2 separate regions of the Homo sapiens genome follow, and region 1 is linked to region 2. The links come from fine-mapping of genetic effects on gene expression. A gene starts in region 2. The other region holds a variant in brackets. All regions are shown on one strand. Distances are from middle to middle.

Evidence for each region. PIP is the estimated chance that this variant, and not a neighbour inherited with it, causes the effect. A credible set is the group of variants that fine-mapping cannot tell apart.
Region 1: its variant is the best candidate, but not a certain one, in a credible set for the expression of ZNF790 in whole blood (INTERVAL, PIP 0.78).

What each region holds. Positions count from the first base shown.
Region 1 is chr19:36,802,482-36,807,866 of GRCh38, reverse strand. The region is part of intron 3 of ZNF790-AS1 (ZNF790 antisense RNA 1); the gene reads right to left. Among named protein-coding and RNA genes, the nearest start is that of ZNF790-AS1, 7.6 kb to the right of the region's middle. The variant G/A (reference allele first, on the strand shown) is at 2,938.
Region 2 is chr19:36,836,160-36,841,544 of GRCh38, reverse strand. It overlaps ZNF790 (zinc finger protein 790), which reads left to right and starts at 3,158. Exons shown (of 5, transcript NM_206894.4): 1 at 3,158-3,208.

The sequences.
Region 1 (5,385 bases), 34 kb after region 2:
TGCATTATAATCAATGCTACAATAACCTTGTCGGTTTGCTCCTCCTCTTCAGAAATTACAATGTCTTCCCTACAGTTACGCATAGACATCTTTTATAGACAAGTGCTGGAAAATTTTAATCTCCAGAGATAAGGCCATGGAAAAGATTTTAGATACCCTATCTATTAGTCAGCAAACATTTATTAAACTGTCCATGGGCCAACTGCTGTTTTAGGCCTGTGGGACAGAAAGATCAATAAATACAAGACCTTTGGCTGGAGAAACTCACAGTTCTTGGACTGGAATGAACAACCAACAAATCATTGCAATTCTATGTGATGTGCATTATAGTAGCATGATAATGATCTTTTCTTTTTCGTGTTTTCCCCCAAATGACAACGGCTCAACAAAATGTAAATGCAGGTTACAGAGATCCAACATCTAAAACAATCCTTCTATACTGCCTCTCCAGGCTCCTCTGCCAAGATGCACATACTCTAAGAAAGACAATGCCTTTATCAAATCCACTCTTACTTGAAGTCAGCCTGAGGTCATAGGATGCAACTTTCCTTAGAAAATTTTGCCCTATCCTTCATAAACCTTCAAATCTAGTCTGTGAAAGACTTCAAAGACAAAACAAAACAAACAACAAAACATTTTCCTGTTATTCACATTTTTTAATAACACCTGTTGACTTCATCACTTTATTCTTTTTCCAATATCAGTGTAGAAATAAGAAATTGGCTTTGAAAATAGTATATTATTAACATCATCAAACATCAAAGGCATCAGGCAAGAAAAAGATAACTTTGAAACTACAGAGTTTGTCTAAATAAGACAATTGAAAACACAAACTATTTTTTTTTTTTCTTGAGACACAGTCTTGCTCTGTTGCCCAGGCTGGAGTGCAGTGGCACCATCTCGGCTCACCGCAAGCTCCGCCTCCAGGGTTCACGCCATTCTCCTGCCTCAGCCTCCGAGTAGCTGGGACTATAGGCACCTGCCACCATGCCCGGCTAATTTTTTGTATTTTTTTTAGTAGAGACGAGGTTTCACCGTGTTAGCCAGGATGGTCTCGATAGCCAGGATGGTCTCGATCTCCTGACCTCGTGATCCGCCTGCCTCGGCCTCCCAAAGTGCTGGGATTACAGGCGTGAGCCACCACACCCGGCCTGAAAAGGCAAACTTTTAAAATATCCTAGTTTAATAGAAAATTGTTCAAAATATGGTGAAGCAAACAGAAAAAACTTAGCAAACAGTATCATGAAAAGAAAGTAAATACAGTGAGCTGAGCTTTGGGTGTGTTTGTCATGAAAATGGAAAATAAGACAGAGCTAATATGCAGTGATTTGAATAAAATATGCTATTACTAACATATTTTAGTAATAAGCAAACTGAAATATATTCATCCATTCCTCTACTTGATGACCAAAAGGAATAATGCTTTAGATTTGGCAACTTTGGTTAAAAGGATGAAAAACTTTTGAGCTATTTAAAAAGCAAGTAACTGGGCCAGGCATGGTGGCTCATACCTGTAATCCCGGCACTTTGGGAAGCCAGGGTAACAGAATCACTCGTGCTCAAGTATTTGAGACCAGCTTGGGCAACATAGTGAGACCCAACCCCACCTCTGCAAAAAAATTTTTAAATTAGCTAGGCATGGCGGTGCACACCTGCAGTTCCAGTTACTTGGGAGGCTGAGGTGGGAGGATCTCTTGAGCCTAGGAGTTTGAGGCTGCAATAACCTATGATTCCACCCCTACACTTCAGCCTGGGTTACAGAATGAGACCCTGTCTCAAAAAAAAAAAAAAAAAAAATTAAATTAGACCAACTGTAGGATTAATTTAATTTGGAGTAATTTAGGGAAAAAAATGTTTCCTAAAGATATGACAACCAAAGAATGACAGAAACTTCCTTAAATATCTAAAAAGCTGCTAATGTCTTTCTTTAGATAGCTGTCACTGACAAAGGACCAAAAATGGTGGCTTTTAATTTTATTAAAAATGTAAGACTTTGGGGTAAAGATGATAGAATGAAGTTAAAAAAAAGTTCTACCACTCTCAACCTAAAGACAACAGAAATAGCACAAGTTCACCTGGAGTAACCAAACACAGAAACAGGTCAGGCAGTAAACTTCAGAGGGAGATGATGGTCAACAACAGAGAAAGAAAATTTTGGCAAGGCCCACCCAAGTGCCAGACCCTCTCCCACCAAAGAAAAGAGGTCTGGAGCCACTGGTCAGTATACTACAGGCAGTATATCTAGGGCCACAAAGCCGTAAGAATCTCCTTCTTATGAATTTCTGAAATCATATTTGATGACTCAAGCAAAAATTATAAAAGCATATGTTGGAATGCTCAATATGAAAAAGGAAACATTGGAAACAATTATATCTAAAAGGTAGAGAGGGTAAAGACCTAAATGAAAGTAAGTTTTCAATGCTCCACTGCAAGTACTTAAATGTGGATAGCAATAGGCTAAGTTATAGATATATACTGTAATACCTAGAGCAACCACCAAAAGAACTATGTAAGTGATATACTCAAATACAGTATAAATTAAACAAGATGGAATTTTAAAAGTGATCAAGTATCCAGTGGAAGACTAGAACAGGGAAACAGGAAACAAACAGAAAACAAATAATAAAATGGCAGAATTAAGCTTTAACACATCAAGAATTACTTTAAAGGTACGTGGTCTAAGAACATCAATTTACCTTTGATGTAAAGGACAGAGATGGCAGTTTAAATAAAATAAAACATAACCCAACTACATGCCACGTACAAGAACCTCACTTCAAACACAGCATAGGTAAGTTGACAGTTAAAATAAAAAACGAACAAAAGAAAAAAGGTATATCATGCTAACATCAGTATTAAGAAAGCAAGAGTGGTTGTATGGATAACGGGTAAAAAAGATTTCCAAGGAAAGTTAATAAGGGCATTACATAACGTAAT[G/A]AGAAACATTACAAAATAATTTAAAAATCATTATGTAAAGAGACGCATTACATGATTTACAAATCATAACGACATATAGATACTAAATGTGTATGCATCCAACAACAGAGCTTCAAAATGCCAACAAATGCAAATTAATGCTTTTTATACAAATACGCACTATCGTAGCCTCATTAATGCAGCATTGTTTTAGTCTATCCATCCTTCATCAACTGTTCTTTTTTTTTTTTTTTTTTTTTTTGAGAAGGAGTCTCACTCTGTTGTCCAGGATGGAGTGCAATGGCATAATCTCGGCTCACTGCAACCTCCACCTCCTGGGTTCAAGTGATTCTCCTGCCTCAGCCTCCTGAGTAGCTGGGATTACAGGAGCCCACCACCATTCCTGGCCAATTTTTTTTTTTTTTTTTTGGGTATTATAAGTAGAGATGGGGTTTCACCATGTTGGCTAGGCTGGTCTCAAACTCCTGACCTCAGGTAATCCACACGCCTTGGCCTCCCAAAGTGCTGAGATTACAGGCGTGAGCCATTGTGCCTGGACCATCTATCTATTTTCCCATCCTTCTATCTGTCTGTCCATGTGCCTAGAGGAGAAAGAATGGCATGGTATTTTCCTGTATTGATGACAGTTATTTCTAAATCATGGAGGTGGGAATGCTTGTTGATTATCTTCTTTGTTCTTTGTTATACTGGTTGATTTTTTTTAAAAACAAGCATTTTTATAACAATAAAGTCATAAAAATAAGTAACTAAAATAAAGTAAAATAATCTATGAAGGCCGGGTGCAGTGCTTCACGCTGGGCGTGGTGGCAGGCACCAGTAATCCCACCTACTCGGGAGGTTGAGGCAGGAGAATCGCCTGAACCCGGGAGAAGGAGGTTGCAGTGAGCCAAGATCGCGCCATTGCACTCCAGCCTGGGCTACAAGAGCAAAACTCCATCTCAAAACAACAACAACAACAAAAAGTCTAAATATAATTCAGTTGAATAAACTTTTTATTGACTAATTTCAAATTAGATTCTAGTTAAATGTTAGAACAGCAGCTCATAGAAGCAGATGTAGTCAATTATGTTAACTCTGTGGTTTCATTTAAGCAATTTGTTTTGTGAAGGGACACAAATCCAACCAGATTTTAACAGTGTATAAATACTTACTTACTAATTCAATTACAATGACAATACTCTCAACACCCCATCTGAATAAAGCAGAGCATCCGATCTCTGTTCTGGGGCACTGTACATTATAGGTGTGTGGAAATACCGATGCCCTCAGCTGTGGGGCAGGCTCAGTGGGACCTGGAGTGCTGGAGACCCTGGGCCATTCACCTCTGGTCACAAAAGCTATTGTCCATTTACCCCCAACTGCCATAGAAATATTATTTTCAGTGGTTGTTATGATGCAAAAGAAAAGAAGCAGGGAGATTTATTAAATTTTTACGTATAAGTTATGTAAATAAAGTGAACTTTCTCCTGGCTTAACTAAAAAACTATACTAGTATTTATGCCTTTTGGAAAATAGAGATGCCAATTTAAATATTATGAAGCAAAGCAACTGATTATTAGGTAAGACAACCAATTACAACTGCAGAATTGTAGAGGTTATGAGTTACATGTATAATATTTCACAGCAATACTCTTTTAAGACTATGTCAAGACACTCACAGTGAAGCAGAAATTAGAACAGAATACTACTGTGTATGCTCTCAGTTCACCTATTTATCGGAACGGTAACCAATCTCATTAATAATTTTATTTTGATAAGATGTTGAAGTGATATTTTGGATAATGCTAACATTTTAGGTGAAATAAAACATTAATTTCACCTGTTTCTTTTTAACTTTTCTAAAGTGACTACTAGAAAATCTAAAACAACTTATGTGTCTGGCATTGTATTTCTATTCGAAAGCGCTGCTCTACAGAGAAATGGTCTCTAGGGAGGCAGAAACATGAGAACCACAATAGAGGTGGATGTAGGGAAGTGACAGACACATCTGGTGGGTACCTTCAGGTGCTGACAGTGGGAACCCAGGAGATTCGGGTATGGACAGGCCTCGATCTATGCACAGCAGGAGACTAGCATGGCTGACACTAAGGGTGCTGAGCTGACATACAAAACTATTCAGCTTTATAAACGTGTGATAAAAATACCGCTAAGTCACTGACATTCCACAGGACAAATCATAATAGAAATGAAAAAACAGCCAGGCGCAGTGGCTTACGCCTTTAATCCCAGCACTTTGAGAGGCCGAGGCGGGTGGATCACGAGGTCAGCAGATCGAGACCATCCTAGCTAACATGGTGAAACCCCGTCTCTACTAAAAATACAAAAAAAAAATTAGCCAGGCGTGGTGGCAGGAGGCTGTAGTTCCAGCTACTCCGGGGGTTGAGGTGGGAGAATGGTGTGAACCCGGAAGGTGGAGCTTGCAGTGAGCTGAGATCACTACACACCAGC
Region 2 (5,385 bases):
AGGTTGAAGAGGTTCTCATGTCTCAGCCTCCTGAGTAGCTGGGATTACAGGCACGAGCCACCATACCCAGCTAATTTTTGTATTTTTAGTAGAGATGGGGTTTCACCACATTGGCCAGGCTGGTCTCAAACTCCTGACCTCATGCGATCCACCTGCCTTGGCCTCCCACAGTGCTGGGATTACAGGCATGACCCACCGTGCCCAGCCTGTTCCTTCCATTAATCTATCTTTCTGTCCTTCACCAAAAACACACTGTCTTGATTACTTAGGGCATCTCAACCTTGGACCATTATTTGGGACTGGATAATTCTTTGTTGTGGCAAGCTATCCTGTGCTTGTAGTGTATTTAGCAGCTTCCCTGACCTCTGTCCTCTAAATGCAAATTGTACCTCTCCAGTTGTGACTACCAAGAACTTCATACTGTGCTGTATATCTCCTGGAGAACAAAATCACCTCTGGTTGAAAAACATTATGGTAAAGCTTTGAAAATATTAATAATATTTTAAATTCCTTTTTAGATAGTTCCAACATCTACATCATATCTTTTTCTTTTCTTTTAATTTTTGAGGTAGGGTCTTGCTTTGTTGCCCAGGCTAGAGTGCAGTGGTGCAATCACAGTTCACTGCAGCCTCAAGCTCCTGGGGAGATCCTACCTGAGTCTACCTCTATTTGTTTGTTGTTGCTTTTTGCTTTTATGTCTTGAGTGTCATGATTTTTCTTGCCTTTTCATGTGTCTTGTAATTTGATGTTGCTGAAAACCATACATCTTTAGGACAGTAGTGAGCAGAAATTAGTTAACATAGCAGGTCTGAGACTACTTATCCTTAGAAAGGCCTGATATGCGAGGTTAGTCTTTGGCTTGCATCTAGAACTTGAATTTCAGATTGGTTCCCACCTTCCTAATAAGTGGCTTACTATGCCTAAACTTTTTGTACAAACAGTATGGTTTATGTTAAACACCCGCTTTCCTTCTGGGAATTTGAAATTCTGGTATGTGTTAGGCACAGACTGCCTATGTGACCAGCCCCCAATAAAAACATAGGGCACTGAATCTATAATAAACTGCCCTGATTGGTAACATCTCACATGTATTGTCACAACTCACTGCTGGGGAACAAATAAATCCCATATAAATTTACTGGGAAAGAACCCTTCGCAGTGTGCACCTGGTTTCCCCTGGACTTTGCCCCATGCGCTTTTTTCTTTACTGATTTTCTTTTGTATCACTTCACTGTGAGCCTCCCAGTGAATCATCAGAGCTTGGGCGTGTAGTGGTTGGTCTTGGGGTCCCCTGCCAGTAGTACCAGGAAAATGATGTTGATGGCTGGATGGGCATACCTTTCCTTCTGTAAGGCCTTTACTATGGGGTTTTCGGTTAATCCAGTTAGGAGTTTAACAACTAATCAAGACAGAAAATTTGTACAATTTGATTGCATTTATATACATTTCACAGCAAGATTAAAACTTTTTTTTCTTTTTTTGAGATGGAGTTTCGCTCTTGTCGCCCAGACTGGAGTGCAGTGGTGTGATCTTGGTTCACTGCAACCTCTGCCTCCTGGGTTCAAGCGATTCTCCTGCCTCAGCCTCCAGAGTAGCTGGGATTACAGGCATGCACCACCACACCTAGCTAATTTTTGTATTATTAGTAGAGACAGGGTTTTACCATGTTAGCCAAGCTGGTCTCGAACTCCTGACCTCAGGTGATCCACCCTCCTCAGCCTCCCAAAGTGCTGGGATTACAGGCGTGAGCCACCGCGTCCAGCTGAGAGATTAAAACTATTAAAGAGCCAAGATATTATTAATACCCTAAAGATCAGCTGGAGCTGGAGCTGGGTATCAGAAATGATCACACAGGTTATGTGCAGTGACTCATGCCTGTAATGCCAGTACTTTGTGAGGCCTACTTGGGAGGATCACTTGAGCCCAGGAGTTCGAGACCAGCCTGGCCAACATGGCGAGACCCTGTCTCTATAAAAATTAGCTGAGTGTGATGGCACACACCTGTAGTCCCAGCTATTCTGGAGGCTGAGGTGGGAGGATCACTTGAGCCAGGGAGGCAGAGGTTGCAGAGAGCCTAGATCGTGCCACTGTACTCCAGCCTGGGTGACAAAGCCAGACCCTGTCTCAAAAAAAACAACAAACAAACAAACAAAAAGAGAAATGATCACATAGAATGGGCATTTGTTCTTGAGATACCAACACTTGTGTGGAGTTATACTGAACTTACACATTTTATGCACTTCAAGTATTTTCTGTTTCACAATAAAAAAAGAAACAACTATTTTAGTTACCTGATAAGTTTGAAAGTACTGAAAAAAATTACTCCTCTGTCAGAAAGTTTAGATGTAGATTGAAATGATGTACATCTAAAAGAGAAGCAAATGAAAACTGGCAAGTGTGTACTTCAGCAAAAAGAATGGCATGAATGGAATTTACAAAACAGTACTAATGTTACTATAAACATTAATTGAAACCAAACACTTTAAGGGCGATTGGAGGATGGGAATAAGGTATTAGGAAGAGTTCTCATGGATTCCCAGACAGGGTACCCCTATAGGGCTGGGCATGTAGCTGTGTCCCATGGATCGTTTCCCCTTCGTTCTATCCCAGGCTGGTACTTGTGGGACAAGAGGTGTCCACCCAGCCGGGCCGAGGCTCGGGCAGAGACGGGACAGACTCGCCACTCGCTTGGCACAGTCTTGTAGGACTTTCCCGCCATGCCACATAGGTCAGAGGCCCACGCAGCGAGCTCCTACTGAAAACCATCGCACCATCCCCCCGGGGCATTTCTGCAGTGTTCCAGGCTCTGGACTACATTTCCCAGGGCCGTCGGGACCAAGGTTACTTCCAGCCTAAGATGGCCTGGGCTTACTGTCCTGTTCCCAGGGCTGGGAGCCTTTTGCAGAGGTAGGGCAGCCTGCATGCCTCCGCTGAAGCTTCCTAAACGCGGCCTGGAATTCTGGAAGCTCTCGGCAGCAGATGTGAGCGGTGTGTGGGCGATGGTCTTTGCCCAGCGAGGGGATGGGGCTCAAATGCAGGGTCCGTTAATGGTGACCGCGGTGTCCGGGGCAGTTAAAGACGGCCCAGGCTCCGGACTACATTTCCCAGAGTGCACCGTTCCCCGGGCAACTTCCTGTCAGCCCTCTGTCCCTTTAGGGTTAATAGAAAGATCGCGGAACCTTCCACCATCAAGGGACCGCAGGGCCGGGTGAGTGATTCCGAGACACAGAAGCCGAATGACTCCGGAGGGCCCGAGGCCGGGGCTGAGGGGAGTGAGGTGCTAATGTCTTTGGAGTTGGTGGCTTTGCCGGCGAGGGAGCGTGGGGGCGAGCGATCGCGATGGGAGCAGTGGATGCGAGAGTGAAATTGATGCAGGAGCTGGGGCCGCGACGGGAGCTTGTGTGTGTGTGTGTGTATGTGTGTGTGTGTGTGTGTGTGCGCGCACGCGCACACGACGTTGACAGGCGCTGTGTGTGACCCTAATGGACTATTTAAATGTGACTGTATGTACGTGATTATGACTGCGTCGCGTTGTGCGTGACCACGTTCGTAAAGGTGGTGATAGCAGCCGCTATGGGGCCAAAAACAAAGAATTGAGCTTTGCGTTGAGTGACAGGCATAGTCCTTCGTGAATGTGTGGGGAGCAGTTTTTGTGCTGGCCCGTAGCTGGATTGGAGTGGGGGCAACCTAGAAGGAGGGGAGAAGAATGGGACACAGTGTAGACAACATAGTTCAAGAGTTTCTCCGTAAATTAGAGCAGAGAAATGGAGCAGCAGGTTGGGGTAGAGGGCTGGGGAAGACGGCTGGGGAACAACCACCCATCAACATGTTGTTGGAAATGAGCCACGAGAGGGGGGAAAAGTCCAGGCAAGGGTAAGTAAACAAGGCTCATCTGTGTGGGTGTAGTTAAAAATGCAAGAATTAAAAAAAATAGAAAAGGGTAATCGCGCTGCAGAGAGTAAACCATGAGCTGAAGATTTCAGATATAGGGGGAAAATACCCTGTGTTTGGTAGAGGTCAACAAAAGTGAGATGTGGTGAGTTATATACAATCTCATGGCAGGAAATTCAAAACTAGAGTTTGTGGAGGGAGGAAGAAAGGTCTGAAGGTAGTGAACAACAAGGAGGCCGGCCATCTGTTCCATTTTCAGACCCACTGGTAAGAGGCTGTAGCTGGGGAAATGTTGAGAGGGCTGCAGAGTCCTCCAGATACAGCCTAGTTTCTGTTAGACTCAGAATGTTAGGGCGTGTTCAAGGAAGTGGTTGAAGATAAAAGAGGAGTTGGTTGTTAATGAATTATGAATTCCATTATGAAGGCATACAGGAAAAGTGTTGAAAGTTGGGAAGAATGAGAAAAGGGGACAAATGAGACTTGATGGTATACAATGTCCGAAAAGACAGTTGACTAGAAATTCTGGGACTTCTTATAGTAGATAAATATAAATACAAGGTTGGATTGACATTTATTCTGGTTGGATTCAAGTCAGTTTTGGAGAGATAGCGTGGGATAGTGAAAGATGATTTCTTGAGTGTGAGAAACAAACTTACCCGTCCCAAAGAATGGACTCAGAGACCCGGAGAACAGCAAAAGTGAGACTTTTAATGATGGTCTTGCAAGATCAGTGTCTGATAGGCACACCCAACAGTTTCAACAAGCAATTTATCCCCTAGTGCACAGGTTCCTCCCCTGGTTCCTCATAGGCTGATAACTATGGGGTCACAATCTTCCCGGATGTTGCCTATTGATTGTTGGGTAGGGGCTTCAGGTGTTTTGTTTTTTGATTTTTGTGAGACAGAGTCTTGTTCTGTCACCAGGCTGGAGTGCAGTGGTGCAATCACGGCTCACTGCAACCTCCGCCTCCCAGGTTCAAGTGGATTCTCCTGCCTCAGCCTCCCGAGTAGCTGGGACTACAGGTGCGTGCCACCACGCCCAGCTAACTTTTCTATTTTTAGTAGAGATGGGGTTTCACCGTGTCGGCCAGGATGGTCTCGATCTCTTGACTTTGTGATCCGCCCGCCTCGGCCTTCCAAACTGCTGGGATTACAGGCGTGAGCCACCGCGCCCAGCCGGTGTGTGTGTGTGTTTTTTTTTTAGGCTTGTCTTGCTGCATTTGGTTGCGGCCCACAATGCACTGCAATCCTAGTTAGCTCAAGGTCTCTTCAATAGTTGACTTATGACCTAAGCAGCTGGGCAGGCTGATAAAAGCAGACAAAATGAGCTATTTTGCAGGCTAGCAAACTTTCATCTTAGACTAAACTTCTTTGGTTTGGGTGAAGGCAACTAAGTGGGGGAAAGGGAGAAAGCGGGAGGCTGACAAGCAGGCATCATCTATCCAAGCAGGGGCCTAGTATATCCTGTTTCTTCTGTAGTTTGCTTACCTAAGCC